2 separate regions of the Homo sapiens genome follow, and region 1 is linked to region 2. The links come from fine-mapping of genetic effects on gene expression. A gene starts in region 2. The other region holds a variant in brackets. All regions are shown on one strand. Distances are between the middles of the regions. Region 1 overlaps KMT5B (lysine methyltransferase 5B). Region 2 holds the start of KMT5B (lysine methyltransferase 5B).

The links. PIP is the estimated chance that this variant, and not a neighbour inherited with it, causes the effect. A credible set is the group of variants that fine-mapping cannot tell apart.
Region 1: its variant is the best candidate, but not a certain one, in a credible set for the expression of KMT5B in prefrontal cortex (ROSMAP, PIP 0.54).

Annotation. Positions count from the first base shown.
Region 1 is chr11:68,158,264-68,169,891 of GRCh38, reverse strand. KMT5B (lysine methyltransferase 5B) reads left to right here. Exons shown (of 11, transcript NM_017635.5): 10 at 2,714-2,910; 11 at 10,721-11,628. Among named protein-coding and RNA genes, the nearest start is that of CHKA-DT, 42 kb to the right of the region's middle. The variant A/TTA (reference allele first, on the strand shown) is at 6,849.
Region 2 is chr11:68,207,261-68,219,846 of GRCh38, reverse strand. It overlaps KMT5B (lysine methyltransferase 5B), which reads left to right and starts at 6,551. Exons shown (of 11, transcript NM_017635.5): 1 at 6,551-6,709. RefSeq lists silencers at 4,091-4,385, 5,570-5,709, 5,820-6,259, 6,845-7,314 and an enhancer at 5,171-5,873.

The sequences.
Region 1 (11,628 bases), 49 kb after region 2:
TAAAATTTATCTTTTTCTACATAAAAATTATTCACATGTTGGTTAGATCTTGGACCAGTCCAGAGAATACCCTTTAAAGTAGTTTAATTATAGTTCAATAATTCTTCAAAATCATTTTGTAGAGGAAACAGTATAACAGTTAAGTGCCTATCATCTGAAATCAGACTGCCTGGGTTGGAATCCTGCAACTCTGCATTTCATTAGCTATGTGATGTGTAGGGTAAGTCACTTAGCTGCTTTGTGCCTTAATTTCCCCATCTGTAAAATGGGGATAACATCAGAACCTATTTTGTAGGGTTGATGTGAAGGCTAAATTTGTTATTTCCTGTAAAGCATGTAGAATAGCACACAGTTAATACACAAATGTTAACTACAATAATTGGTTTCTGGTTATTTTCCCATTAGAATATGAGCTCCATGAAGGCAGGGGCTTGTATCTGTTTCATTTTCCGCTATATCCCCAGAATACAGAACAGTACCCTGGTGCATAGTAAGTCCTTGATAAATATTTGGTAAATGAATGAATAGAGTAAATATATATAATGAAGTTTTTGGAGGCGGTCCTGAAAACACCTAACCACATACTGAGGATTCCAAACCAACACCGAAACAGCTCTTTCCCTGGTTTAGAACTGCAGGTATAGTCATTTTCCTTGAGCAGATTAGTTCTCTTTCATGAGCCTCTGTTTTCTCACTGGTGAAAATGAGGATAATCCCACCTACTCCACAAGGTTAGTGTGAGAAGTAGATAGAAACGTGTGTAAGTCCTTTTTAAATGGAACAGCATGATGGAGAATAGTGGCCATGGCTATTGTCAGACTGTTTGAGCAGTTTGATTTCAAGATTGGCTGCATATATTCTTGAAGTTCTCATAAACACCAAATTGTTTCTGCCTTTACAGAAATTAGCTGGGAAGATGCATCTAGGAGCTCATTCCATTATTCATTACATATTAACTGAACAGTTACTTAATGTTAGGCCAAGTGCATGCAGGATAAACAAGACCAGCACAGTGCCAGCTGTCAGGGCAGTTCAGTGAAGGGGACACACACACTGTGCTGAGAGCCAGAGGGTAAAAGGAAGAGGCTCCGTGAAGAAGTGAGAATGGACGGAATCACGTGTGCAGAGACACTGAGTCGCGCTAGACACTCCAGGATACATTTGAAGCATGTTTCTCTGCTACACTGTACTGACAGTAGTAATTGTAATATGTTCATAAGTACTGCACATTTTACTCTAGAAAATTTAAAGCAAAGGCCACGCACGTGTGACTCACGCCTATAATCCCAGCACTTTGGGAGGCTGAGGCAGGTGGATCACCTGAGGTCAGGAGTTCGAGACCAGCCTGGCCAACATGGCAAAACCCCGTCTCTACTAAAAATACAAAAATTAGCCAGATGTGGTGGTGCGCGCCTATAATTCCAGCTACTCAGGAGGCTGAAGCAGGAGAATCGCTTGCACCCAGGAGGCAGGGGTTGCAGTGAGCCAAGATCGCACCACTGCACTCCAGCTTGGGTGACACAGCAAGACTGTGTCTCAAAAAAAAAAAAAAAATTCTAATAACAAAAAGCTCCTATAAGCTTATAGGGAAAAGACATAGTCAAATAGGAAAAAAGGTAAAGGAAAAAGAGATGCAGAGATGCTTCACAGGAAAAAAATGGCCATAAATGAGATTAAAACAAGATTAGGTATTCATTTTCACTCATCACTTTGGCAAAAAGTAAAATTTTTTTAGACGGAGTCTTGCTCTGTGTAAGTTTCGATCTCAACTCACTGCAACCTTCACCTTCCAGGTTCACGCAATTCTTCTGCCTCAGCCTCCCGAGTAGCTGGGACTACAGGCGCCTGCCATCACGCCGGGCTAATTTTTTTTTGTATTTTTAGTAGAGACAGGGTTTCACCATGTTCACCAGGATGGTCTCTTTATCTCTTGACCTCGTGATCTGCCCACCTCAGCCTCCCAACGTGCTGGGATTACAGGTGTGAGCCACCATGCCTGGCCCACTTTGGTAAAATTTAAGGAGTACAATGTACCGTTGATGAGGATGTGGAGAAGCAGGAACTCACACCATGCTAGTGGGACCATGATTTGCTCTATCCCTTTGGCAAAGTAATCTGGCAATGTTTATTAAAGGGCTGGACTTTGTGGCTCACGCCTGTAAATCCAGCACTTTGGGAGACCCAGCTGGGAAGATCCCTTGAGCCCAGCAGTTGGAGACCAGCCTGGGCAACATAGTGAGACCCCATCTCTACAAAAAAAAATTTAAAAATTAGCTGGTGGTGGTGCTACACGCTTATGGTCCCAGATACTCAGGATGCTGAGGTGGGACGACTTCTTGAGCCTAAGAGGTTGAGGCTGCAGTGAGCCATGATCGTGCCACTGCATTCCAGCCTGGGCGGTAGAGTGAGACCCTGTCTCAAAAAAAAAAAAAAAAGGAAAAAATTTTACAAGGTCCAGTAGTTTCTCATAGGCAATTAATGATTGATAATAGTCATAACAAGTTGTTTTATTATTTTAAATATAGATTTAAAGTTAATTTTATAATATAGATACTTAATTTCCTTTGTGAGTTCTAGTCTTCGGTTTCCAGTGGTGATTAAGGCCTCAGCAGCTCATCACATCTGTTAACCTGTAGCCAAGTACCCTCAGCAGTTAAGCTTATTATAAGAAAGTGTGTTCTATTTGTTTAACCTGTGCTATTTTCTCTTTCAGACGGGGCACTGGTGCTTTTAAATCCAGAGTGGGACTGCCTGCGCCTGCTCCTGTTATCAATAGCAAATATGGACTCAGAGAAACAGATAAACGTTTAAATAGGCTTAAAAAGTTAGGTGACAGCAGCAAAAATTCAGACAGTCAATCTGTCAGCTCTAACACTGATGCAGATACCACTCAGGAAAAAAACAATGCAAGTAAGTAAGGGAGATTTGATAAGCATATCTTTTAAAAGTATTTTCACACAATTTGCTTTATAAAGTGTGCTTCAGTAGTTTTAAACTTTTAAATACTCAGAGAGACTGGGACTTGTGAGCTTTGGCTGCACTTCAAGGCTCTAGACGTGATTTGAGTAGAGGCACAGTCTGTATCCCATCTCTAACTTCAGTACCGTCCTCTAGACTATTTTTCTTGAATACCTTGGTAACTGGATATGAGTTCTTCATCATATGTTCCAAGGTCATCATATGTTTTAAACATTTTCAAGGTGTTAGAGACTGTGATGATGTCGCTAAGTCCTGCAAGAAGACAAAAGGACTGAGTAGAATTAAATTAGACTCTATACATTCCAGTGCCTAGCCAGTTTGTTAGAAAAGATGATGGACTTGGGGAATTCATAGCTTCTGGCCTTAAGGCTTCCACCTTTTCATTGCTTGCTGACCTTTTTCAAAACGAACTGACTCAGTTCAGCAGACCACCAGTACCAGACTCAGAATTGTGATAGAGGAGCATTTTGAACAGTGCCGTATTGTGACATGCTGTATTGGCTACTCCAGAAAGTAGGAGTAAAGATGGAAAGGAGAAAGAAGCAACCTCTGAGATTCCAGTGGTGTGTGGGGGCAAGATCTGATGGAAACTGAAAAAGAGAACGAAGACTAAACAAAGAGAAAGGAAAGAGAAGAAACCCTAAATGGGCAAAGGAAAGCACATCCTGTTTGCGGAGCTTTGAAATATTGGAACCATTTCTAATTGCTCCTGTTTTTCTGGGTAACACCAGTTTTCTGTAGTTGCCACTAAAGCAGTAGACTCTTGAGTCTCACTTGTCTCTGAGAGAGACAGAAGTTAGAAAGTTTTGACTTGGCGATTCCGAAAGTATGCCTTTGTTGGCACTTAAATGTCCAGTGAGACTTCTTGGCACCTTAGAGCCCTCTGAGATACTGATTATTTTAGGTTCTTCTCCCTACTTTCAGATGTTTTCAGCCCAACACTGGGTGCTCTCTTCCACTACAGAGAATCCTGAAGAAAAGGGAAGGTGTTTCCCATGATGGTGAATGTCACTGCCATGAATTCCTGAATCTACCTGCTGCTGGGAGTCAGAGTCCAAGCATAACCCGTGTAGCATAAAAGCAGCGCTGTAGCCCTATTCCAGTCTTTTTCGTTAATGTCCAGAGTGAACAACAAGAGTTAGTCAATCATTAACTGTTGACTGTTGATTCTCATAATAAATGCAGCATAACGACCATTTGTTTTCTGAGTCTGGTTCCTTGGTGAAACTGGAGACTTGTGAAGCCCATTTTATAAATGCAGACATAAAAACACTTAAAAGCCAGGCATGGTGGCACACCTGTAGCCCCAGCTACATGGGAGGCTGAGGTGGGAGGGTCACTTGAGCCTAGGAGTTTTGAGACCTGCCTGGGCAACATAGTAAGACCTGTGTCTTTTTTTTTTTTTCTTTTGAGACGGAGTCTCGCTCTGTCCCCAGGCTGGAGTGCAGTGGCACACTCTCAGCTCACTGCAGCCTCTGCCTCCCAAGTTCAAGCGATTCTCCTGCCTCAGCCTCCCAAGTAGCTGGGATTACAGGCACGTGCCACCGCATCCAGCTAATTTTTGTATTTTTAGTAGAGACGGGGTTTCACCATGTTGTCCAGGATGGTCTCAATCTCCTGACCTCAGGTGATCCGCCTTGCCTTGGCCTCCCAAAGTGCTGGGATTATAGGTGTGAGCCACTGCACCCGGCCAGAGACCTGTGATTTTTAAACAAAAACACTTAGGTTCGTGCTGCCATCTGTATATGGAGACAGCCACAGAGTTGCCTATGTTGAATGGCTATGTGATGTAGGTGTTTTATGCTTAAGTAGTAACTTTATTACTGGTGTATAGCTACTGAACTCAATATACTACTTAGTTTAAAAGATAAGAATACAAATAATTTTTGGAAGATGTTGGGTGTACTAATATTTAACTATTAATATTTATTAAACCAAATATTTGGGAATATATATTAACAAACTAAATACTTACTGAAATCCTGCTAGTTCTTGAAGACATACAAAGATGTTTGAGACTTGGGCCCTTTCCTCAGGGAGCTTATGCCTTACTTAGCTCCAGGATAAGACAGGTGCACAAGTAAGCAGAACAAACTGGAGGCACAGGCTTTCAAGTTCAGAGGGACTGAATAATCGCTTTAAGCTGAAGTCTCAGCATTACAGAAGAAAGGTGTACATTTTGCAGGGACTGCTGATATTGGGGTGCTTGGCTTATTCAAATTCCCTTTCTGCAGCATGATTGGAGCAATCCAAGGATCAGTATGACTAACTCTGAGGTCATGGGCAGAGTGGATAGGCATGGCTCAGTGCTCTCTCTGAAGGAGCTCAAGGCTTTAGTTGTCTCTGAGACCATTGTATGTTAAGTCATGTTCACATAAGGATTTCTTGAGTTCTTACATGCGTTCTCTTAGGCTGTATTTCTTTTGGTGTTTGTCTCAGCCATCCCCTCCACCTGTCTGAAAGAAAGGTTCTGGAAGCCACATCCTGCAGGAAAGCCAGCACTGCCAGTCCCTCCTCCCAGGGTGGTGGGTGCATGTGCTGTGTATGTGTTTGCGGAGTGCTTTTTCTGTGTGGCTGCTCATCTTTATCATGTGGTTCGTTTAGAATTTAGCAGCTGACAGAGGAACTGCTTTCTTTGAACACATGTATAAAAAAATGTTCTGAGTAGTTGGAAGAAAAATTTCCATACAGGTGCTTTTTCGGAAAGTACCTTGAGAGCTATGGTGTGACTTTGCTTTAGCATCCAGAAGTAGAGACAACAAGGAATCCGTTTTCACAAATCCAGTCCACAGGTCTGAATTAGAATGCCAGGACTGGAGGATTCTGGTTTTTCAGGCCTCTTATGCCTCGCTGACTGGGCTGCCCCCTCTGAAGTTAGTGCTGTGATAGGGAAGGTGAGACCAGAGAGAGGCTCGCGAGCGGTCTGTGAAGATGCGGACACGGGTCTCTGCAGGTGCCACAAGTCAGGACAAGCCCCAGAAGAATCGGCCAGAGGGAGAAGTTGATCTTAACTATGGAGCACCTGTCCTAGATGCAGAGGCTGGGGCGCTGCTCCTCACTCCTGCCCTGTCACTCATGTCAAGAGTTGATCTGAACACTTTTCTGCTGAGCCTTCGGGCTGCTTCCAAATTCTAACACCCCGTTCCAGGTAGCCATTGGCAGTCTGTGCTAGTCATGTCAGATGAAAGCTGCTTGTGCCAAGTAAACTCCTTGAGACCGAGGTCTTTAAAGTCCTGTCAGAGGCCTTCTGGATCCTCCAGCTCTGGAGATGCTCAGCTGTGGCCCTTGTATTATCTTAGTTCACGCTGATTGTGCATTTCCAGTGCGGCCTGAGTGCTCAGGAAGGCTTTGGTGTCGGTCACAGCTCTTTTGTCTGACTGGAAGTCTTGTGCCACCCTGCCTTATGATTTTGAGGACACCCTGAAATGACCATAATAGCCATGCAGTGGGGCCTTTACCCGTAAGTTGAGGCCAACACCATAATTCTTCTGTATATGCCTTATAGGCAGCATAAGCGTGATTTTAATGCTCAGGAAGGCCTAACAAGTCCCATCTCTGCCATTCACCAGCTGGATGACCTTAGGCATGCTAGTTCGTGTAAGCTTGGTTTTCACATAGCTTTAATCGCTTTCCCTTCCAACGGCGTTCATTAGGATGAATGTGGCCATTTTGCACAGCACCTAGCATGTAGTAATTGCTGAGAAGAATGTGTACCCCCACCTAAAATTACAGTCCAGGTCCATGTATTTGAGATTTGTCCCAGCCCCTAGGGGAAGAGTCATACGAGGCATATAAGTGCCACAGCAAGCTCAAACACAGGTGCATCTGACCCCACTTAGGTCATAGTCCTTGGTTTCTTGATGGACTTT[A/TTA]AAATCATTGACTTTTAGTTTGTCATTGTGGCCACTGTCTTCCTCCTTTAGCCTTCACTGTCTGAAATTCTCAACCCCTGCCAGGACAGTGCAGCTTCTTTGGACAGTGAAGGACTCTTGTCACTCTACTGGGTCCTCATCTTTGTCACATTTCTCAAATTCTTTGCCTGTCTTTTTTTTCCTTTGATTTGATGAGCATACCTTTTGACAGGGCTTTTGATGAGATAATGCTTTTCAAACAAAATTAGAATACATTGGTAACATGTAAGTGAAATCTCTGTGTTGATGTAATACATAGCATCAAATACATACCCATTTTGTGCTCAAAAATGGAGCGTTTATGTTAGTTTAGAGACAAACACATAAAAGTGCTTTGGTTTTCTGTTGTCAACAGTGAATGTTTTGGAAGGAGGGATGGGATGGGGAGAGCCGAATTCAGAATCACCATAAAATGGGAGTCATCCAACGGGTGAAAATAAGAAGTACCAAGGAAGGAGCTTCTTGGGTGCTGTGAGAAGACATAGGAAAGGCATTGCAGAGAAAGTCCCGAGAGGCTCCCTCAGGGAGGTGTTGCCTAAGCTGAGTCTTACAGGGGGATGAGAAGTTGGCCAAGTGAAGCCTATTCAAAGCAGAGGGCCTTTCAGACAGCTCTATAGACAGAGGGGAGTTTGAGTCAAAGCTTTTCTTCATGGCGAGTACAGGCTAAGAAGAAGAGATGTGAGCACAGGTTAAAATTCTAGACTTCATTCTTAGGGCATTAGGTTGCTGAAAGGTTTAAAGCCCAGAAGCTGCATGATACACTAGGAAAGTCATCCTGGCTATGTGGTGGTAAACGGATTGTTGGGAAAACAATAGGAAAAACAAAACTGCCATAGTTCATGCAGGAGGCTGTGGCTTTCGAGACAGGGAAGAGTAGACAGGTTGCAGTGACATTGCAGGGGTGGACTCCACGGCACATGGTGATTGGCTTGGTGAGGCAGTTCAGGAGAGCAGGAGTCAAGGAGGACCTCCAGCTTTCTGCTTTGGCAGCTGGGCATGTGGTGGTGATATTGACCAAGATGGAGACCTCGAAAGGGGACGTCGTCAGGAGACTTGATGGTGAGTTCCATTTAGGGGCTTAGAGACAGTCAGTATTTGGTGACCTGGTTCTGTAAGTTAGGAGCGGGTCTGGCCAGAGTTCGGGAACTGTCAGCCTGTAAGTGGTAATAGCCGTGCGAGAATGGGTGCTTGTCACCTGGGGCCTAGGACTACACAGACCTGAAGAAGAACAGTCTAAGGGGCCGATGAAGGAGGGTGCCAGGGATGGAGAAGGGAACCAGGAGAGTGCGCTCTCTTTGACAGCCAAGAGAAGAAAGGTTTTCTCAAGAAAAAGTGGTTATCAGTGTCACATTCAGAGAAATGAAGAAAGGGAAGGGCTGAGGAGTGTGTGCTGGGTTTGACGACAAGAAGTTGTCAGATCACCAAAGGCTGTCTCATTGGAGGAGCAGGCTGGATCCAGATGGCGGGGATTGCTGTTGAGAATATGACATAGATGTGAGTGTTGTGTAAGGGTGCTTGCAGGTACGTCATGAGAGTGGAATGGAAAGAGGAGAAATCAAAGGTTGGAAACCACTAAGTTTGGTCATAAATTAGTCCTTGAGGAGGCATAGAATGAGCAAAGGATCATCGTAGCCACATCTGAGAGAGCCAAGCAAAGGGAAGCCAAGCAGTGCAGTCCTTTCTTCACTAGTGTCTTTATATTGGCAGCACGTCCATTCAGTCCACCTTGTAGGCAAGCATAAAGAAACCCTTTAGCCGAAGAGTTCCCTATTTTTTCTTATTTTCTAAATTTCTTATTAAAAAAAAATTTGCTATCACATAGTTCTGTATAGTTCCAGTGGATAATAAATCACTCGTTCTCAAATTGAATCACATTCAAAGTTCACTACTCCTACTATTCTAAAAAGAGGCGCCACCTTGGTAGCAGCCCACATGTGTAAGTATGTTCTTGTTTCAAACTGTGAATCCCTTTGCTGTGAATTCTGCTGGTTTATGTACCCTGAAGCCATTTATGAGCCAGTCTGTGCGTGCAGGACCTTCTTTGTTTTTGTTTTTCTGAGAGGAAGTTTCACTCTTGTCACCCAGGCTGGAGTACAATCGTGCGATTTTGGCTCACTGCAAACTCTGCCTCCCAGGTTCAAGTGATTCTCCTGCCTCAGCCTCCCCAGTAGCTGGGATTACAGGCACGTACCACCGTGCCCGACTAATTTTTGTATTTTTAGTAGAGACAGGGTTTCACCATATTGGCCAGGTTGGTCTCGAACTCCTGACCTCAGGTGCAGAGCCTTCTATTCTTGGTGGTTTGATATTTTTGGAATGTTGTGATGCATTCTTGCTCCTCTCTCAATAAAAACTGAACTTATGGTAACTTACTTGCTTAGCTGGGCGGAAGGAATGGCAGTTGCCCTGGCAACCTGAGGCATGTAGAAAGCGACAGATTTCTCTGCAGGATCCTGGTCCTCACTTGGTTGGGCAGTGTGCTGAGCTTACCCATGTTTTATTGTTTTTATCCTCCCTGTTCTGATGAGAGGTGGTGATGATTCGTTTTGTTATCGTGGCTTCTCTAGTGAATCTGTAAATGGAGTGTTTTGATTAGGAAGAAGTTTTTCAACTGGACCTGCAAGAACTAAGTAATTGAGAAACTGACTTGTGTAACAACTTCTATAAATAATAGTCTGGAATGTCAATACAGAGGAAAAATTAACATAGCAGAAAGTCAGTGGCAAGGTCAGAGACACTACAGGAGCAGCTTAAGCTTGAGTCACAAATGAAGCCTTTTGAGAAGCCATTCAACTTTATTCTTTATATTGACAGCACGTCTATTCGATCCACCTTGTAGGCAAGCCTCGTAAGCATAAAGAAATTCTGTAGCAAAAGAATTATCTAAATATCCTTATATTTTAAAAAATATTTTCTACCTAGTAGTTCTGTATAATTCCAGTGGATAAGAATACGCTCATTCTCAAATGGAATCATATTCATCACTACTCAGGTTGTCATTACCATTAGGGTCATTGTAACCCTTTTCTATCCTGGCCTTGGAGGAAAGAAGTTGGATCTCCCTTTGTCCTGAGAGTGTACAATTCTAGCAGCGTGCATCTTCCTTCACTGTGATTGTTGGCATCTGGCCGTCACTGAAGGGATGGGGCTGAGTAAGCTTTGCAGCTCTTCTAAGTTGACAGCCCACTGGTTGCCTCTTCTGTTCCTCACGGAGTTGAAGGGGACAACTTAGAATAGTGCATTTCTTTTTCGGTAGTGACTGTACTTTTCAGAGTGATAATATATGGTTCTTAGCATCTGTTTTTCTTGTTTGAAACCATTGCGATAGAATTTGTTCCTTAGAGCCCATGAGTATTCTATTTCTACTCTATGTTAATGGCCAAGTGCTGTACTTCCTTTAGGTTAATGAGCAATGGATTTTAGAAACATTTTAAATGACTAAGGAGAATCTGTGAAAGGAAAAAACCATGTTAACTTTCTTTGAAATCTTTTATGTGGGAAACTACTAAATCAGGAGAAGAAAGCGTTCGTTTGGGCCAGTGTCACGACAGATTAAGAAGCTTAGAGTGGAATCTAGGTCCCTGCTGTGAAAAGCTCCTTAACCGTGCAACTACTTACCTCAAAAATGAATAGATGCCCCATAAATTAGAAAAGAACTTCAAAGAGAAGCAGTGTAGGGAATGCAGGTGCGCTGGCAGAATCTGCAGCAGGAGCCGTGGTGTTGGCGTTTGTGTAATCTAAACGTGCTGTAGCTAATAGCCTGGGTTTGGGCATTCTTTTCTTGAACTCTGCTGTTACCAAGGCTTTTCACCTTTTTCTCTTTAACCTTACAGCTTCTAACCGAAAATCTTCAGTTGGCGTAAAAAAGAATAGCAAGAGCAGAACGTTAACGAGGCAATCTATGTCAAGAATTCCAGCTTCTTCCAACTCTACCTCATCTAAGCTAACTCATATAAATAATTCCAGGGTACCAAAGAAACTGAAGAAGCCTGCAAAGCCTTTACTTTCAAAGATAAAATTGAGAAATCATTGCAAGCGGCTGGAGCAAAAGAATGCTTCAAGAAAACTCGAAATGGGAAACTTAGTACTGAAAGAGCCTAAAGTAGTTCTGTATAAAAATTTGCCCATTAAAAAAGATAAGGAGCCAGAGGGACCAGCCCAAGCCGCAGTTGCCAGCGGGTGCTTGACTAGACACGCGGCGAGAGAACACAGACAGAATCCTGTGAGAGGTGCTCATTCGCAGGGGGAGAGCTCGCCCTGCACCTACATAACTCGGCGGTCAGTGAGGACAAGAACAAATCTGAAGGAGGCCTCTGACATCAAGCTTGAACCAAATACGTTGAATGGCTATAAAAGCAGTGTGACGGAACCTTGCCCCGACAGTGGTGAACAGCTGCAGCCAGCTCCTGTGCTGCAGGAGGAAGAACTGGCTCATGAGACTGCACAAAAAGGGGAGGCAAAGTGTCATAAGAGTGACACAGGCATGTCCAAAAAGAAGTCACGACAAGGAAAACTTGTGAAACAGTTTGCAAAAATAGAGGAATCTACTCCAGTGCACGATTCTCCTGGAAAAGACGACGCGGTACCAGATTTGATGGGTCCCCATTCTGACCAGGGTGAGCACAGTGGCACTGTGGGCGTGCCTGTGAGCTACACAGACTGTGCTCCTTCACCCGTCGGTTGTTCAGTTGTGACATCAGATAGCTTCAAAACAAAAGACAGCTTTAGAACTGCAAAAAGT
Region 2 (12,586 bases):
TTTATTTCTGAACAGGATTCTATCACATGGAGAGACCACAATTTGTCTACCCATTCTTTTGGTGGTTGGCATTTGGGTTGTTTCCAGTTTACAGCTACTATAAATAAAGCTACCACAAATAACTGTAAAGGAGGAAATAAAGAGAGTGGGAGGGAAAGAGAGAAATAAATAGAGAAAGAGAAGAGGAAGAAAGAAAGGGTGGAAGAAGAAGAGGAGAGAGGAAGGAACAGACACCAAATGAACAAAACTAGGAACCCAAAAATCCATTCTGATATATATATATACACATATATATATACATATATACATATATATACACATATATATACACATATACACATATATACATATATACACACACATATATATATACATATATACATATATACACATATATATATACATATATATACATATATATACACATATATATATACCAGAATATATATATACCAGAATATATATATATACCAGAATATATATATATAAACCAGAATATATATATATATACCAGAATATATATATATATATGTGTGTGTGTGTGTGTGTGTGTGTGTGTGTGTGTGTATATATATATAAAATGTGGTGAGGAATGATGTTCACATCCCCTCAGTGAACCTCTCCACAGAAAACTTATTTATGACAATGGGCAAGCAAGTGACCTGACGATGGGGAAGCCTGGACACCCCTAAACCACATGACGGGTAACCCAAGTGGACATCACCCATAATGGGTTAAATCAAAACTGCTTCAGTTGTAACATCTCATTTTTTTGATTTTGTTTCTTTTTTTTTTTTTTGAGATGGAGTCTCGCTCTGTCACCCAGGCTGGAGTGCAGTGGCATGATCTCGGTTCACCGCAACCTCTGCCTCCTGAGTTCAAGCGATTCTTGTGCCTCAGCCTCCCAAGTAGCTGGAACTACAGGCACATGCCACCACACCTAGCTAGTTTTTGTATTTTTGGTAGAGAGGGGGTTTCTCCATGTTGGCCAAGCTGGTCTCAAACTCCTGACCTCAAGTGATCCGCCCACCTCGGCCTCTCAAAGTGCTGGGATTACAAGTGTGAACCACCACACCTGGCCAGAAATTATTAAAAAATAATAGTAATAATAAAAAAACAAAGCTCCCCGTGCCCATGAGGAAACCTTTGCCAGCTGCTGTCAGTCCTCTCTGTGTTTGCTTCTAGAGAGGGCTGGTTAGGGCTGAGTTTTATTTGGGGGAGGGGAGATGAAAAGGTGTGTGATGGGATCCCAAAGGAACAACATCCTCAGTGACAGGGAAATTTTCTTGGTGCCTGTCCCACTGCCCCAGGTGGGTGCTGAGCACACAACCCCCAGGGCACCCGTGAGCTGGAACGCTACACATCTTGTGGGGTGGGTGGTGGAGAAGCCTTGTCAACAAAGCAAGATTGAGCCCCCAGAATTTGGGGAGTGATTACAGAGCCCCTTGCACCTCCCTTTATCCTTGTAGCAACCCTGGAAAGTTAGTATTATCTTTCCCTCTTCCTCCCTCCCTCCCTTCAGCAAAAGCATAGAAGCCTCAACACTCTGTCCCCAGGGGTGGTTCCAGATGCTGAAGACACAGCAATGAATGAGACAGACAAAGCTCCCTGCCCTTGAGAAGCTGATAGTCTAAAAGGAGAGTCAGCCCTAGGATGAATACTGAAAGATACAGAATGCTAGAGCTGTCGTATGTGCTAAGGAGAAAGAACCCTGAAGCCACAAAGGAAGAATGAAAACTAGGTCTTGGCCGGGCATGGAGGCTCACGCCTGTAATCCCAGCACTTTGGGAGGCCAAGGCAGGCGGATCACCTGAGATCAGGAGTTCGAGACTGGCCTAGCTAACATGGCAAAACTCCATCTCTACTAAAAATACAAACGTTAGCCGGGCGCGGTGGCACACGCCTGTAATCCCAGCTACTCAGGAGGCTGAGGCAGGAGAACTGCTTGAACCTGGGAGGTGGAGGTGGCAGTGAGCCGACAGTGCACCACTGTACTCCAGCCTGGGCGACAAGAGTGAAACTCCGTCTCAAAAAAAAAAAAAAAAAAAAAAAGAAAAAAAAAGAAAGAAAGAAAAAAAAAAAGAAAACTATGTCCTGGACCTGGACCTGAGTGGTGGAACGGTACCTGTTTGAAGAGGTGGAAGGGTGTGTGAGGAGAGGGTTTTGCTTTCGTGTGTCCCCCAGGTTAGCCGTGTTATATTTGAAATGCCTATTAAGCATCGAAGTAGTGTTGTCTGAAGTTCAGAGAAGTCCAGGCTGGAGAGAGAATTTGAGCATCTGAAGCACATAAACAATTGTAAAGCTATAGAGGAACTTACTAAGACAGGTCCAAGGAATGGACATTTTCACAGGTAAAGGAATGGTGGGCTGACAGGCTACATCATTTGTCCCAAATCCCATGGCTGGTAAACTGCAGAGCTAGGATTCAAACCCAGGTCAGACTCGTGCCAACCTCTGTTGGCAGCTGCTGTACAGTCTTGCTGCTGTTGACCAGGGGTCTCGTGTGTGTCACTTGACCTTTCAGTGGCTGTTTCTTTTTCTTTTTTCTTTTTTTTGAGACAGAGTCTCAAAAAACAGGCTGGAGTGTACTGGCATGATCTCGGCTCACTGCAACTTCTACCTTCCGGGTTCAAGCCATTCTCCTGCCTCAGCCTCCTGAGTAGCTGGGATTACAGGCATGCGCCACCACGTCCAGTTATTTTTGTATTTTTAGTAGAGACGGGGTTTCACCATGTTGGCCAGATTGTTCTCAAACTCCTGAGCTCAGGTGATATGCCCACCTTGGCCTCCCAAAGCGCTGGGATTACAGGCGTGAGCCACCACGCCCGGCTTCAGTGGCTGTTTCTTCTTCTATTCAAGGACAGTGGCAGTGGAGGGGCAGGTGGAAAGCAAGAATGGTGCCGGGGGTAGTGGTGCTCAGGAATGTGACCAGGAAACCCGCCAGCCGCCCAGAGGGGCCACTGGGAAAGCCGGGTACGCCCCACTCTCCCTCCGGTTTCAGACACCTGCTCCCATCAGAGGAGTCCTAGCTTCCGGGCGGGGTGGGGACTGGGGCAGACGCATGTGCGGAGCACGAAAGCCAACATATCGCTTTACAATGAAAAGCAACCTGCCTCCAGCCTGGAATTCTGGGGTCAACGTGACCTGTGGGCCATCCCAGTAAGCACAGGATCAAAGCAAGTGAATCCCTGCCATCCTGTCACTGAGTGAACCTGGCACTCGAGGAAAGGGAGCGAGAGAGCATAGCAGGGTGGGTGGCACTAGGCTGGAGTGCCCCTGGACACACCAGAGCCAGACCTGCTAGAGAGACCAAAATAGACTCCATGGCCTCAGTCAGTGCCCTGGCAAGCGTGCCACTCCTAGGCCAGCTCCGGGCTAGGCTGGCACTCCTGGCCAGCCTCACGGTGCTTCCGGGGCCAGCCGGGCCCCTTCCGCTGACTCGGTCTTTCTTTAGAGCTGTTAATCCCTTTTGGTCCGGCCAGGCTGGGGAGGCCCCCCAGCCTCTGTGGCTCAGCTCTTCCACTTTGGGGTGCCTAGAGCTCTCCCAGTGTAAATGCCAAAGGCTCCTGACACACAGGACTGGGCAGGTGCCTGGCTGCCTACTTCCTGCTCTCCCTCCCCTGCCAGCTGGCAGGAGGAGCCTCCAACTGGCCTCTCCTGTGGGAGTCTCCCTAGGAAGGGCTCTCCTGGGCTGTGCTCTCAGCCCAGCCTAGCCCTGGCTTCCCTGAGTGGGGACCCCCAAAGGCCTCAAGCCCCCTGCATGGCTCCACCAAGGTCCTGAACCCCAATTCAGCTCTGCCAGGAGCCCTGGCCCACCCTGGGCCTCTCAGCTGAGGCTGGAAGAGCAGCTGGCAACGTAGGGGGATTGAGGGAGGAATGCACACAGAACTGGGGGCCTGGGAGCAGGCTGGGCTTGGGTTTGCTCATCTGTATCCCTGCCAGGCTGTGGGCCCAGCCTTGCAAGGAAATGTCCAGAACACTTGACTTGGCATCAGGCAGTGAACACATGGAAGTGTCTGCATCTTGGAAGTATGGGGGCTTCACAGGACTCAGGATTTGGCGTTCACCCTGAAGGGCACATGGAGAGCACCTCTATGCTGGGGTGGGCTCTGGAAAGCTGGGAGTGGGCAGGACATCGGCTTTGGGGGCTCTGGAGGGCTGCTCAGGCATAGCTGGACTTGGGACCTGAGACCAAGGTCGACTTAGAGGCAGATGGTATTCCCCTAGTGAGCTCGCCTCCCATAGGCATTCGGTGGTGGTGGGTGGCAAAGGCAGGCTCAGTGTTTCTGGGGTGCAAGTTGAGTATTTGGAGCCAGGCACTACGAAAATCTTGGAAAGTTTCTGATAAACCAGAAACCAAGAACACCAAAGCAATCATTTGTTAGTTGCGTCTGCAAAGACGAACGTGGCAGAGTGGATTCTGCTGCCACAGATGACGCTGCTTTTAGTGAAAGGGCAGACAGGAGAAGTGCTTGGGCTGTGCCCACCGCCCACACCCGAATCGGCCTCCAAAAGGAGGAAGCTGCTGATAGGGCAGGTGAAGGCAGTGGGAGGAGCTCTGTTTTGAAGATGAGACCCGCTTCTGCCTCCGTCAGCCATGTGCCCTCAGCGAGTCACCGTGCCTCAGTTTCCCTCTGTGGAAGGCGGTAATGAGCATCATGTCTACCAGCCAAAGTCAAGGTCGAGAATGAGGGCAAACGAGGGAGGCGCTGTGCGTCAGTGTTACTTGGACTTAGTCCAGTTCTTGTGTTGGGTGGTCGTCCACAGCCTCGATTCATCATCCTTTGTGGAGGATGATGGCCCTGGAGCCGCAGGGGAAAACTAAGGCAGGCTGCGGCTCTTCCTGGCATCTGACTGAGCTGCCTGCCCTGCCCGCCTCCTCTCTGTGGCAAGGGCAGCCTCTCTCCCCTCCCAGGGCTTTGACACTGGCTGGTCCCACTACCCGCCCATATCCTAGGCACCCCCTTTCCCCAACACGCTCCAATTCACACTCCAGGTCTGCGCTTCCTTGGGCACCTGCCGGCACCAAGTTCCAGGCATGTGCACGCCTATGCCAACCTCAACTTCTTGGAGGTCCTCCGCACCCGCTTCCTGATTTATTCTGCATTTTTCACCCGAATGCTGAAAGAGGGCTCTGGCTCAAGCCCTGACTAGTTGTCATAGAGGTCACGGAACTCCCTGTGCCTCAGTTTCCCTAGGTGTAAAGTGGCACCCACATGGCCCCCACCTCCGGGGGTCGTCCTGACGCGTGAGAGGGAGGATGCGCGGAGACCCTGGGCAGCCCCGCAGGGGCCGGGAGCGCGCTCATCGTTCTGTTGTCTGGACTACAAGATCGATGCCCAGGCAAGCTTCGCAGCTCCCCGGCTCGCAGGCGGCCCGGTCCCTCAGGATCTCCCCGCCAGCCCGGGATCCCCGAGGAGGGATCGCACGGCCAGCGCGCAGGGCACACCCGGAGTGGAGCGGAGCACGGCGCGGGGCACATAGTGGGTGCTGGGGGCGGCGGGGCCCGCGGGGGGCCAGGCCAAGGCGCGCCCGCTCTCCTCCTCCCTCGCATGCTCCGCGCAGGAACGCTCAGCCTGCCCACACGGTCTTAGGGTGCATCTGCTGCCAGTGACCCCCATTCCCACAACAAAAACGCTCGTCTGCCCGGGGCCACCTCCCTCGGAGCAACTGGGACGCGCGGCGGGAGGGGGGGGGGTCCCCTTCCCCAGGGCTGCAGTCCGAGAGGCTGGCTCTAGAGCCGTCCCTGGTAGGGGCAGGTGTGCAAAGACCCAGGGCCCGGGACAGCTGCCGCGGTCCCGCGGGGACCGGGACCGGAATGCGGTCGCGTAAGGGCCGCAGGGGACCCTAACGTGGCGCCCGCGGGGCGCGGGCGACGCCGCCTCAGCCGCGATTTAAAGGGCAGCGAGGGCGGAGGGATCCCAGCCGCCTACCGGCCGGCCGCGAATCCCTCCGCCACGAGGGGAGGCGACGGCTCGCTCTGAATCGCCCTTTGTCCCTCCGCCGTCGGGAGCGCCCGGCACAGAACTCGCTCCCCGCGCGTGCCCGCGTCCCGCACAGAGCCCCGTGGAAGCGCCGCGGCGGCTGGGCCTGGCGGGAGGCGCGCGCACACTGTGGCAGCTGCGCCGCACGGTGTCCCTCCGCCGTCGAGGCCGCGGCCTTCTTTTCGTATCCTTCCACCGTGCCCGGGCGGGGTCCAGGCGGCTCACCGGGGGCGGCGACGCGGCGGCGGTGCGGGCGGCAGGGCAGCGGGGCGATGAGGTGAGGACGCCCGGGAACCGGAGGCGGCACCGCGCGGCGCACGGACCTGGGACGCGGAGTCCTGAAGCCGGCGGACGGTTTTCGTACGGGCGGCCGTGCGCGAGGCGAGGTGAGGCCCCGGGTGGCGGGGCGCGGGGGCGGGCGCCGGGGGCGCAGCGAGCCGAGGCCGGGGGCGCGGGGGGCGCGACGGCGGCGGCGGCGGCCGGTTGGGGGCGGGGGGCTCGGACGCTGCGGGGACTCATTTTTCCCGTCAGCGGAGGGAGCGAGCGGTGCTGCGGCCCGCGCCGCCATCTTGGATTTTACTCTCCATTTTTCTCTGGAATTATTTTTGGTGATTAATTTTCTGGGGGGGACTGGGACGCGGGGCCCGGCGGCGCGGCCCCGCATCGCAGCGGCCGGGCAGCGGGGCCTGGGACGCGCCCCGAGGAGGAGCGGGGCGGCGCAGGCGGTGAGTCGGGGGAGGGGCGGGCGCCGGCGAGGGTGTGCGGGGGGCGGCCTCGGTGACGGGGCGGGCAGGGACGTGGGGGACCGCGGGCCCAGGCCGGTCGCAGGGCTCCGGGGCCAGGGCGGGTGGGGCCGGGGCCGGGCGCAAGCGGCCGGGCGCGGGGGGCGGGGCTGCGGCCGGGCCGGTGCGGGGCCGGCGCGGGGCCTGCAGTGGTGGCCGCGGCCGGAAGGGAGCGGTAGCGGCCGCCGGGCAGCGTCGGGGCCGGGCCCGCGGCCGCACGAGGGGAGCAGCCCCGCCGCTCGCGATTGGGGGACTCTGTTTTCCCTTTTCTCCAATGGGCAGCCGTGAACCGTCTCGCCCAATCTGCTCCCACTGCCGCGCTGAACTTTTTGTTTTTGTTTTGGCCCGAGCGCATTTCGGAGCCCTCCCGAGCTCGTCCTGCAGCCCACCCTCCTCCCCGACGGCGCCCCTGGCCGTGGCCCGGCGACCCCGCGGCCGCTGCGTCCCCTTTGTGCTTTATCCGCTCTCCCTGCGTCCCCTGGTGTGTGTCTGTCCTTCCACGTATTCGCGGATGATGTGCACCGTTGTCACCTCCGCCTTGGAAGGAGGAACAATGACAACTCGATGCAACTTGCTGGATTAAGATAGAAACAAGTTGGGTGCTGAGAAATTCAGTCTATTTGGGTTTATTGGACCCGGGTCTGGAACAGTAACTTAACGATTTATTAAGTGGTGGAACTTTCGGAATACTGGGGAGGTGAACATGTGTTCTTTGAAGTTAATTTTTAAGAATTTGCCAAATGAAATTTACCTGGAGTGGGGGGAGTTTTCCTTAGAATAGAGGGCAGGTGAATTAATTTGATTGATTGTGGTTCTTTGTGATGTGGACCTTTTTCGATTTAAACCAGTTTGATATAAAGTGTAGTTGAGGATGGCCATACAGGTCTGAACTTTGCTGTGTAGGATCTTTAGAGGAAGCAGTTGCCAGCTATAACTTTTTTCCTTTAGTCTTTAATATTGAGAACACGCCTATAATATTGATAATTAGTAGTAAAAAGAAGTATTTTCAAAAGAGGAGGAAACCATTTTTACCTGAAATAATTACAGATAATGTGTGCATGTTGAAATACATAAATTGCCGCTTGCTGTAAATACAGATTTATTGTGTATCTGAAGGTTTAGCAATTTGAACCAGAGGTGTGGCCCTGTCCCTCTTGGAGCGCCTTATATTCCCAGGTTAGAGTCCACAAACGCTCTAATCCCGGCTTGTGTGGGAACTCCAGCCCATTTTTCACTTTGTAATCTCTAAACATTCGACATTCTGGTCCCTCTCCCAAGCTCTGGCTCCAATAGCTTCCCATACCTGGTCCCTGTCGGCCGTGCCCTGCCCGGCATTCCTCCACCCCTTTTCTCCACCCCGTACACTCTTGTCCTTCAGAAAGGCCCCGTGAGAATGTTGCTTCCTGGTGAAACCTTCACACACACAGCCGTTGGGGTGGTTACTCGTGAGTTTTTGAGTCTCTTGTTATCTCGTCCGCCCACGGGCAGGTACAGAGTAGGTGCTCATAGACCCTTAATGAATGGGTTAATTTATTAATCTCCAAGTTGTCAAGCTTAATAGTTTGTATTAGTTTTTCAAAATAAATCCACTTTAATGTTGTTTACAAACATAATTATATTTTAAAAACTGAGCTGGAGAGTGAAGGGAATATGGTAGATATTTCTTCAATAAGAGAGTAGGGTAGGGCTTGATTCTTTATCCATGATCATTTCCAAGTGCTCTCGCGCCTTTATTTTCATCTGCTTTCCCAAACACCCTGAACTGCTCATGCAGTGAACTTTTTATTCTCGCAGCAAATGCCAGGGGACAGTAGTGGGGAAGGTGGAGGTGGATGGAGGGTAGCGGACTCTGACAGGGAGAGACGCGTGTGAAGGAAGTGTCCCGGTGTCTGCGTGTCTTTCAGCAGAGAATTTAGTGGGTGGGGGATGTTGGTGATTTTTCTCTTGGGTTATTTAAAAAGGAGGTTGAATCTGATTTTCCTTTACCTGATTATCAGTTTGTGGGTTTATAGGGCCTGGGTTCGTGGCCAGGTTGTGTGATAAAGAGATTTGTGTGTGTGGCATCTAAGCAGCTCCCTGTCCACAGGAATGCCCTTCCCATGGCTTACAGAGCAAATCCTTTCAGATAAATCGCCGTGGTCCCATTATTTCGTGTTTCTGTGTACCATGTATGAGCTTTACATTGGCAAATCTCTCCATTGGCAAAATCCTTCTCCGTGGTCAGGAGTTCCCCGACTATGTCAGCCTTAGAACGCTCTGATGGTTAAGAATCTTCCTCACACTTTTGACGATAGGGACCATGTGTCCTCCCTCCGCTCCATCACCCTGTTAGCTACAATACTGCATGTTAAGTAAATGCAGGGGGTGATCCATTATGTGTCTGGATGGGGTTGATTTGGGGCTAGCCGGTCTCCGAATGAGACAGACTTGAACACCAGGCCATCTTCTAGGGCCGTATGTCAAATGATGACTGCTGTATAGAAGTGTAATTTTAGGAATAGTTGAAGGACCATGGAATAAGAATCAATTCTTATTCCATTCTCTGCTCTATCACTGTTTGTATAAGTCATTGATAGGGCCTAGACTCCGTCTACAAAACGACTCTGAGGTCACTTCCAATCCAAAATTGTATTAATGCTTCATCTTTTACACTTCACTGCCATCCTATTTTCTCCTAATAATTATTTTAATCATATTTTGACATCTCTCTAATCACCTTAGTTCATCTGCATGTTTCATGTAGTTTTACCTCCTTTTTTTGAAATGTCATTATGAGATAGTTAATCAGTTGGGTTTTAGAATTGAGAGACTAGGGTATCAGTGTCCCCCCCCCCAAAGCTTGATTGGGGGCCTGTATGACTCCTACAATGCCAGTTGCATTTCTATAAGCTGTCTTAGTTTGTCTGTTGTAATAGCACACTAAAGAAAACAGTACCGGCCGGGTACGGTGGCTCACGCCTGTAATCCCAGCACTTTGGGAGGCCGAGGCGGGTGGATCACGAGGTCAGGAATTGAGATCATCTTGGCTAACACGGTGAAACCCCGTCTCTACTAAAAATACAAAAATTAGCCTGTAGTCCCAGCTACTCCGGAGGTTGAGGCAGGAGAATGGTGTGAACCCGGGAGTTGGAGGTTGCAGTGAGCAGAGATGGCTCCACTGCACTCCAGCCTGGGCGACAGAGCAAGACTCCGTCTCTTAAAAAAAAAAAAAAAGGGGGAAAGAAAACAGTACCTAGATCCGGGGATCATTTGCTGGTGATAAACCTCTAGGTGGTACACGTGGCTCAAGCACTGGAGTAAACCCCAGACTGCAGTTTAAAGATGAAGGTTTTAGACCCACCCTTACCACTTAGTAGCACTTTGAGTTTAGGAAAGCAATTTGTTTCTGAGCTTTAGCCTCCTTGTTGTAGTGCTAATACCTGTTTCACCTGATAGGGTTGCTGAGCTAGCGAATCCCGAGTCCTGCATGTTAGGGGAACCAGTAGAAACCGAATGTGTGTGTTGTGACACCTGTGTTTCTACCTTGTGCCACCTTTATAGGAATGCCTGGTCAGCACATCTCTAATGGCACTCGGCTTGCTTCTCAGGCCTTACGCAAAAGGCCCATTCAGTGAAGGGTCATTCTGCTTCCTAGTCTGTACTTTTCTACCCTGTTAACTTTTTTTCCCCTTATGCATCTGTTTGGTTTTCTTCCCTGACTCAACGACTGATTTTCCTGAAAGTAGAAGCTCTCATACGCCCTCTAGTGTTCCCTGGACATGACCAGTATTCCAGCACCACGAACAGTGCCTGGCAGCTCTGGGAGGTTCTTCATAAGTTTGTTGAACTGAGTGGATTCTAGGTCGGCCCGATGAATTGTTTTGCCTGTCTGATTTGTATAACACGGTTGAAATGTATGATACATTTTAATGGTCTCTGAGGAGTATTTTTATTTTCGAGGCAATGTTTATGTTGCATCATATGGAGAAATAGATATTTTTAGTAAGAAAACCAATCTGATTTTAGGAAGCTGCAGCTTTCCTCACTGAGAAGTAAAAGGGGGCTTGATCCTTCAGCCAGTGAGCCAGTGGCACCATAGGAAACCCCCCTTCACTTTCCCCCTTGGAAAGGAAACAAAACCAGACGTCATTCAGGGTCCTGGAGGGTTTAAAGCAAATATTTGTTTGGTGCATATAAATAAGTACCAGGAGGGCTTTTGACCCAAAAAAGGTATTTTTTGTTTGTTTGTTTTTGAGACAGGGTCTTGTAGCCTCCCAGGCTGGAGAGCAGTGGCATAATCCCAGTTCACTGCAGCCTTAGTCTCCTGGGCCCAAGCAATCATCTCGCCTTGGCCTCCCAAAGTGCTGGGATTATAGGATGAGCTGCCATGTCTGGTCTTGTTTTTATATTTACAATTTTGATTTATATTTCCCTGATCATCCCATCTCAAGTCCATTCTTACATTAGTCTCTCTCCTAACATCCTGTTTGTTTTTCTTACAGCTCGCATCAGATTGATAACCACATACTTACTTACATCTCTTCCCATAGTATGCTCTGACCTCTATGCAGTCAGGAACGATGTCTATTTTGCTCTAGAGTTTTACTCTTCAAATATGGGGCACAGTGGTTTTTTTGTTTGTTTGTTTGGAGACAGAGTCTCACTCTGTTGCCCAGGCTGGAGTGCAGTGGCGCGATCTTGGCTCATTGCAACCTCCACCTCCCAGGTCCCGGTTCATGCAATTCTCCTGCCTCAGCCTCCCGAGTAGCTGGGATTACAGCCACATGCCACCACGCCTAGCTAACTTTTGTATTTTTAGTAGAGACGGGGTTTCACCATGTTGGCCAGGCTGGTCTTGAACTCCTGACCTCGTGACCCTCCCGCCTCGGCCTCCTAAAGTGCTGGGATTACAGGCGTGAGCCACCGTGCCTGGCTTGGGCGAAGTGTGTTTAAAAATTTGTTTGGGGCCAGGCGTGATGGCTCACGCCTGTAACCTCAGCACTTTGGGAGGCCGAGACAGGTGAATCACGTGGTCAGGAGTTCAAGACCATCCTGGCCAACATGGTGAAACGCTGTCTCTACTGAAAATACAAAAATTAGCTGGGCGTGGTGGTGGGCACCTGTAATTCCTGCTACTCGGGAGGCTGAGACAGAGAATTCCTTGAACCTGGGAGGCAGAGGTTGCAGTGAGCAGAGATCGTGCCACTGCACTCCAGCCTGGGCAATAGAGCGAGACAGCGTCTAAAAAAATAAAAAATTTGTTTGGGTCATTATTCTGTGTTGTTTTTTGGTTTGTTTTTTTTTTTTTTTTGAGATGGAGTCTCACTCTGTTGCCCAAGCTGGAGTGCAGTGGCACGATCTTGGTTCACCACAACCTCTGCCTCCTGGGTTCAAGCGATTCTCCTGCCTCAGCCTCCCGAGTAGCTGGGACTACGGGCAGGTGCCACCATGCCTGGCTAATTTTTGTATTTTTAGTAGAAATGGATTTTCACTATGTTCGCCAGGCTGGTCTCGAATTCTTGACCTCGTGATCCGCCCACCTCGGCCTCCCAAAGTGCTGGGATTACAGGCGTGAGCCACCGTGCCTGGCCTGTGTTGCTTTTTTGTGTGATATTAACAGTACACAGTCTCTCAGCCTGGACTTCACTTCAGTTTTTTTTCTAATTCTCTGAGTTTTGTTCTCATTTGTAAAATGGGGATGATAGTATTGAGTGTGTGTTAAAGGGCAGTGATGTTTGTATCTTCTTTTATAGGGTGTGAAAATAATCTGTTTGACCAGGTACACCACAAACTAAACTGTGTTGTAAGAAGCTCTGTAGTCCAGTCTGTGGTCCCTCTGAA